2 linked regions of the Homo sapiens genome follow. The protein of the gene in region 1 purifies or fractionates together with the protein of each later gene. This does not show direct contact. Each region holds a gene or a part of one and is shown on either strand. Other genes may lie near its edges.

Region 1 (3,758 bases):
GCCAAATATGTAGCTATTCCTCTGCCTTCTTTATCATATACTCTAAGTAAACTGGCTTAAATCCAGTCCTTCTCTCTCCTTTTGCATTGGCCCCTTTTAGAAATATGAAAGTTACAGATGTAAATTACAAAGTAAGCCAGTATTACATGAAAACATGTTTATTGCCTGAATAATAAAACTTAGCTAAGGAGTTATTAGAATTAGGATTCCCCCTACTTGAAGTACAAGTTTCCAATAAACAGACAGACAGAAGCAAAACCCCAAATGAGAAAGAATACATTGGTAACCTAAATCATAGGCATTTGTGGGTATGTTCATACAATCTACCTATTTCTTTGTAATTTACTATAGCACTGATGACAAAGCATAGACATACAATGAGAAAGAGCAAATCAGCATATCAGTGTGACTGTGCAACCACTACAAAGCTTGGCCTTCTTAAATGTGGCCACTTTAACTTACACACACCCACAGAGGCATCAGAAATCTCCCTGCAAACACGATTTGCCTATAGTTTTGTGGCAATACTGTTACATAGAACAAAAACAACTCTCAGACCATGGTTAATAAATAAGAGAGAAAAGAAGTAAGAAACAACTTCCATGGGTTGGCAGGCATGCAAAGCAGCACCTTGAACCTCATTTGAAAAACAGGCAACTGGGATAGCTTTTGGAGCCCAGGAGTGAAGGCTAGAGGCTGAAAGGAGCTATGCACTATTATCTTTGGGTATTTCCACATAATCTGCAGGATGGGGAAGTTTAATTCCGCACCACATAAACTGTGCTCTTTTAGATGTGGCTGAAACGGGTGTCTCTGCAGAATTAGAAACCCATCTAGAAATGACATTGCTTAAAATTGTTCTTTCCAGGTGACAATTCCATAACAATCACATAAATAATGTACAAAAACAAAACTAAAAACAAAGTCACTCAAGTGTCCAATTTTTCTCTTTTGAAAGATGACCTTAGATGTATTCTCAAAGTGCAAATCGGGATATAAAAAAATAGTAGGTATGGGGGAAATGTAGCCCCATCTTCTGTCCCCCACCCTCCAAAACGGGGCTGATTTGATTCCCTCTTTCTAGCATTTGTATCCTTCCACCTATACTTTAAGATAATCATTTTTCAGCCGACCTAGTCGGGTCCCATGGCTCCTAATGGTGAGGGCCAGCAGCTCGTATTTGTCCCTGAGCCCCACAGAGATGTCCAGTGTCTCCTTCAGCAGGGACCTGGTGTGGACCAGCATTCCCAGAAAGTCCTCGTTGAGCCTGCTCTCCTGCCGGCTGTCCTGTTCCTGGCCCTGCTTGAACTTGCTCTCCAGCTCAGTGAGGGATTTGTCCGAGTTGGAGTAGGCATCCCCGATCTGGTGGGACTCCCGCCGCAGGTACTTGCCATAGCTCTCTTCCCCGTCTAGGTCGTAGGAGATGCTTTTGCTGATGCCCTCCAGCACGCGCCCAGCATCCTCCACCTGGCGGCCCAGCACGGTGAACTCCTCCCGCAGGGTGAGGCTCAGCAGGCTGCCAACCTGGCTCCCCTCCCCCTGGGAGCAGCGCCTGTGGTCACTCACCCTGAAGAGCAGCTGGCACTTCTCGGGGTCATCGTTCTCCTCATAGTCCCCATCGGGCACGAAGTAGTGGTGCAGAGTCCCATTGGACATCTCTGGGTAGAGGGGGCCATCGAAGTAGCCTTGACACAGGTGGCAGAAGAAACTCATGCAGAAGAACTTCAGAAACACCATTCTGGATATTCAGGATGGCCAGGGACCCCAGGAGGAGACTTTTTACCCAGGCACAAGGAAGGGAGTGTCTTTGCGAGTCAGCGTCTCCCTGAGACAGCGTCCGCCTCAGTCCCAGCTGGCTTGCTGCTCCCTGGCCCCCAGTCCCCAGCAGGCTTCATGTGGCTCTGCACACCAGCGTCTGGGTAGCGCGCCCGCCGCAGCGCAGGATGCACCCACCCTTGCGCCCCTCGCTCGGTGACTGGAACTCCTCCGGCACAGGCGTAGCGGGGAACCCCTCCTCCGGGGCCCTGGCAAGATGCTGGCTCTGTTGCCCTCCTCTCGGAGTTTCCCCTTGCTCCCGGGAGATGGAGTGTGTAGCTGGAGAGAAAGGCTCTTGCCCCCTGATAGTATTTCAATTTCTGGACTGGGTGGGAATGCGGAGCTTTTCCTTTGGCTAAAGATATCCTGAGGATCTCTCTGCTCTCAAATTACAGCTGGTTTCGTCACTTGGAAGCCAGGGAACAAGTTTGGAAAAGAACCTCTCACCAGGTCTCCACTATTAAAGGTACAGGGTCGCTTTTTAAAGGTTGGAAGGGAAGACTCTACAATAGAATTTAGCTCGAAAGAGAAAATGAGAAGAGAATAAATGGAATTTCCACCACAAAAACCCTGGTTTGTTATTGACATATTGGGAGGGGGAAGGAATGATTACCCTGGAAAAATGCCATTTCACGTGTCTCAATAAATATCAGGTTGGATTTTCTGAGTATATCTATTTTTATCTTTAAAACTTTGTGACTTTGAAGGCAAATTTAAAGTGTCAGAAATTACAGTTTTGTTTGAAAATGATTGGTTAATTAAAATTTATATCAACAATACTTTGGATGAAATGAAAATACAGAAAGTTGCTTAATGTATAGTCTTTAGTATGTATAAGAACAGAAGCAGAAAAATGAAATTTTGCCAGCTTAGTGAGTTAAAGGACAATGAGATCCTTATTTAATTTTATGAAACAATGCTAAGCATCTGCATTGAATCTTGAACCTAATGCTTTTATAGTTGTTGCCTCTTTTGAGAGTCTTGAAAGCTTTTGAAGAATGTTTCTGGTACTATTATGCCCATTTTCCAGATGGAGAAATGAAGGAGCAGAATGTTAAGCAAATTGATTATAGTCACACAGTTAGACTTTAGTTGAGCCAGAACTAATTGTCACAAGGTCTTTTAATTTAACTTGGGGGGAGAAAAACAATGTTTTTTTTTTTTTTTTTAACCTGGCCATTTTAATTTCTAATTTATGAACTTATTGGCAAATGGCCATCCTAAAGGCCATTCATTTGTTTAATGAATATTTCTTGAGCATTTACTGCATGCCAAAATCTATTTGAGGTAGTGGGAATACAGCTGTGAACAAAAATAAAGACAAATCCTTGCCTTCCTGGCACTTATATTTTGGGAAATAGAAAACTTAAATTTTTGAAAATAGGTCAGGCGTGGTGGCTCACGTCTGTAATTCCAGCACTTTGGGAGGCAGAGGTGGGTGGATCACTTGAGGTCAGAAGTTCGAGACCAGCCTGACCAACATGGTGAAACTCCATCTCTACTGAAAATACAAAAAAAAAAAAAAAAAATAGCTGGACATGGTGGTGCATGCCTGTAATCCCAGTTACTCAGGGGGCTAAGACAGGAGTATTGCTTGAATCCAGGAGAGGGAGGTTGCTGTGAGCCTAGATCGCACCACTGCAGTCCAGCCTGGGTGACAGAGTAAGACCTTTTCTCAAAAAAAGAAAAATATGTAAATAAATAAGATGTAAGTTGGACATCAATAGGGCTGTGGAAGAAAAGAAACAGAGGAAGCATGGGAAAGCAGAAGCAGGCAGCACTCCTGTTTCTATGGGTATTTTCTCCTTCTTCCTTGAAATGTAACTGAAACATTCATGTTGACTTGCCAGTGTTCCATACCTATCTCCCTCCCCAAGTAATAAGGGACTGGCTTCATTCAGACTCACAGTGCCACACTGTTCTGGGACAGTTATACTCATTGT
Region 2 (3,658 bases), on another chromosome or scaffold:
TGAAACATTTCAAAGATACCTGTATTGTGACTTTCACACTATTGCCTTGGAAGCTGTGAACCTGACACAAAATGTTGCTGCATGCTTTTGTTTTTCCTTATCTTGTTTTTCTCCAGTTGGTAAATGAAATGCATCCACTGAGACTCTGAAAGCACTATTAAATAATATCAGAAATACAGGATTTGGCTCAGTTTACCTGTTCCTGTTGCTGGAAATCCAATCTGAAATAAGTGTTGATGCCTGTTGGTGACAGTGCTTGTTGCCAAAACTGCAGGCCAGCATTATAACTTCTCTACGTAGTTCTCTAGATATCATCAAAAGGGAAACAAATTAAAAAGAAAGTTAGGGAAATTCATTCCCTAAATAGTAGATAAGTAAATTATTAACATAAAAATGGTTTTTAGATCTGGAAATCCTATGCTGCTGAGTAAAAGTCACTTAGGCAGAGTGGAAGTTAAACATACTAAAAGTTTAACAGTACTCCAGTGAGAGGCATGGGTTCTGATCTCAATATCACCAATAAAGGTAGATCTTAAATTAAAACACAGCAAGGAAACGTCTTTGTTCTCAGGATCAGGCAATGGAAACTGTGCTACCCAGCAGCAGTCCTCTCGGGAAAGTGAAATGTAAGATGAAGAATGAAAGGAAGATTGTCTCATGCAGCTAAAGTCACAATGGCACTAGTAGTACATTATTATACAGCTCTAGGGGTAAAGAAGAGGATAAGAAAATAAAACAGTACTCATGTTGGTAGGATGCTTGAACAAGAGATCCATTAAAATTATTTTTCGGCCACCCAAGCTTGATATATGTTGTTGCAACTTGCTTTAAAATATATTCCTAAATGGGGTATAGAATAAATAAAGATAAGGTCAGTTTAAAACTTCTGTATGCTGACAATTAAAATTCTGTAATAAAATTAAAATATTCTTAAAATGTACCTACTTTCAAATATCCATAAAATTATAAGTACAGTAATGTTCTATTATAATTTTATTTAATTTAGTATTTCATATATAGAAAAGAGGGATAAAATGCTATTGGAATGGTACAAGTCTACTCTTCCTATTAAATCACTAAGTAATTTGCATGAGTAAATATTTTAGATGATGACTTTTGTAACAAAATGAGGAAAACAAAGAATATTGATAACACCTATGCGTACATATGTACAAATGTATATAGATATACTATATGAAAATGGACATCTAATATTTACGCATTTTATATCAACAAGGCATATTTAATGCAAAACTACTATGTTGGCCCAACCAATGGCCTAGTATTGATGAAGCTGAGATACACAGAACTCTTCAGTGTAATTATAATGATATTTCAAAGTCAACAATTCATTCAGCTAATGACACATTTAAGTGTCAGTATCAAGGTAAGGCATGCTCTCCCTCACTATTTTTTGTTTTTTTAGACAGGGTCTCCACTCTGTTGCTCAGGCTGGAGTACAGTGGCAACAACCACGGCTCACTGCATCCTCCGCCTCTCAGATTCAAGCCATCCTCCCACCTCAGCCTCATGAGCAGCTGGGAATACAGGCACAAGCCACTACACCCAGTTAATTTTTGTATTTCTTTTTTTTTTTTTTTTTTTTTTTGTAGAGATGGGTTTCACCATGTTGCCCAGGTTGGCTCTCCCTCACTTTAATGTGCTTCTTGAATTTTGCCAAGGAATACAAACAATGAAATTACAATAAAAATGATTCTTAACTGTTTACTGAAAACAAGGAATCTGACATGATACGCTATTCTAATGTACAAATATATTCAAAAATATATTTTACTTTTACAAAGGTTTAATATTGCAGTGTCTTTGTGTTAGGGAGAAATTAATGTGTAATCTTTCTCTAGCAAGTAAAAAATTGTATCATAACTGTAATGACCCATTTGTTTGCATGTCTGTTCTAAGGGCTTAGACAAAACTAACAATGAACGTAATTATTCCCATTTTTTAAAAAAAATCATTAAACAGTTTATTTTCTGTAGGTTTAAAGTAAAAATAAAAAGGAAGGAATTCTGATGGGCATCAGAAATCAGATGGCTCCAATAAAAAGATTCATGTCACAGGAATCCACTTTTCAGTAATCCCAAATGTGTATGTTAATTAGTACAGTATAAAAAATAAGATAATTTTATAAAACACAGGGCAGGCTCTTACGCTAACTAAAGGAAAACAAATAGTGTTCAAACATCATGGAAGGCACAGTGATAAGAAATTTAAGAATCAAAAGGCTCATGAGCAGTACTTAATCCTAATATTATTGAAAATGATTATTAAATCAGATTAGGTGGCATGAGCAGTGTAATTTTGGTTTACTAGGTTTTGAGTTCAGAAAATCTGGTCAGGTAACATTTTGGAATGTTTGTCATGTCTTCTTGTCTCTTTGGATTGTCTGTTGTTTGCTTTCCTGTATCCCCTTGGACCCAATTACGAATGGGCTTTTGCCTCAATGTTGATCTTATCCTTGTTAATTAAGGCAGTGAATTGAATTCAGTATGCCCTTTTGGATAAAAATAATGACTAAGAATCATTACTGAAAATGCCTATATTCTGTTAAGATCTTTGGGATCTTTCTACCCAGGTTAAGTCCTTTGTGAACACAGAGCCCTCTAACTCTTGGAAAGTAAGTTTGAACTTTAAAAATTTGCCATGTATATTTCTTCTTAAATTCTGAAGCATTTAAGCTTAATTGACACTTTTAGGTCAGCATTTTGTATTAAATTTCTTCTTCAAATAATTGTCATCTGTGTTGCATAGACAATCAGGACAAAAATCGGGATAACACAAACTAGAAGAACAAACTAAAATAACTTGGCATCAGTTGCATATATAATAGTAGAAAGAGAATAAAATAGTGTATCTTCTAAAAATTAGAAAGAAAAATTATATCTTTTTACATTGAAAATGTTGTAGTTTTCCATGCGGTCCAGTAATTTATCTAGAGGATAAAGAGCTCGGCTGGCAGCATGCCAAGGAAGAAAATCCTTCTCCTCAGACAGGTATCTGATAATCTCCAGAGGAATATTCTGAGGCAAATAGCCAGCCCTACAGTTAAAAAAAAAAAAAGATACATGATGATGCACAAACGAAGATTTTTACTTACGCAAATAAAAGACGGAAAAGCAAAATTCATCATAGTATAAAGAAAGCATATTCAGTGTTATAAGAATAAAATTACTCACTTTTAAAATATAGTCATACTTAGGATGCCAGTGCCACCTTAATATATGCAGAGTTGGACAGTTAAAAATTTACGAATACAAAAACATCAGAACGCATATTTTTTTAAAAGTAAGGAATTATGGAACATAAGCAAAACCGAGCCTAGGTATGTTCCTTCACAGAAACTCTTCAGAGGTTAACAAGCAATTGAAAATAATTGATCACTGAAATGTAATTTCAGTTTCTCCATGTATTGTCTTTACTTGTCATTTAGCTCAGGGTAATGATATTTAATACACATTGTTCTTTAAAAGATCAACAAATTAAAGTGTCAATTTGTAGTTCTGAGTGTTTGTTAGATTACAATATTAGCATGTTTTTCAAACCTTTTTTTAAAGTTGCTTTCCATAACACCGATAAAAATCTGAGTTAGGTTTTAATAAAGTCCAAATTACAAAAATGTTAAAAGAATAACTCTTTTTTT

What was found.
Region 2: the proteins of FIBIN (region 1) and TRHDE purify together in Homo sapiens (affinity purification with mass spectrometry; one large-scale study listed by BioGRID and IntAct). This does not show direct contact.

What each region holds. Positions count from the first base shown.
Region 1 is NC_000011.10:26,992,506-26,996,263, reverse strand, and holds the start of FIBIN (fin bud initiation factor homolog precursor), read right to left. Parts: upstream 2,153-3,758; 5' UTR 1,738-2,152; coding exon 1,102-1,737; 3' UTR 1-1,101.
Region 2 is NC_000012.12:72,618,290-72,621,947, reverse strand, and holds part of TRHDE (thyrotropin-releasing hormone-degrading ectoenzyme), read right to left. Parts: intron 3,058-3,658; coding exon 2,910-3,057; intron 841-2,909; coding exon 743-840; intron 305-742; coding exon 197-304; intron 1-196. UniProt on the Homo sapiens protein: Specific inactivation of TRH after its release.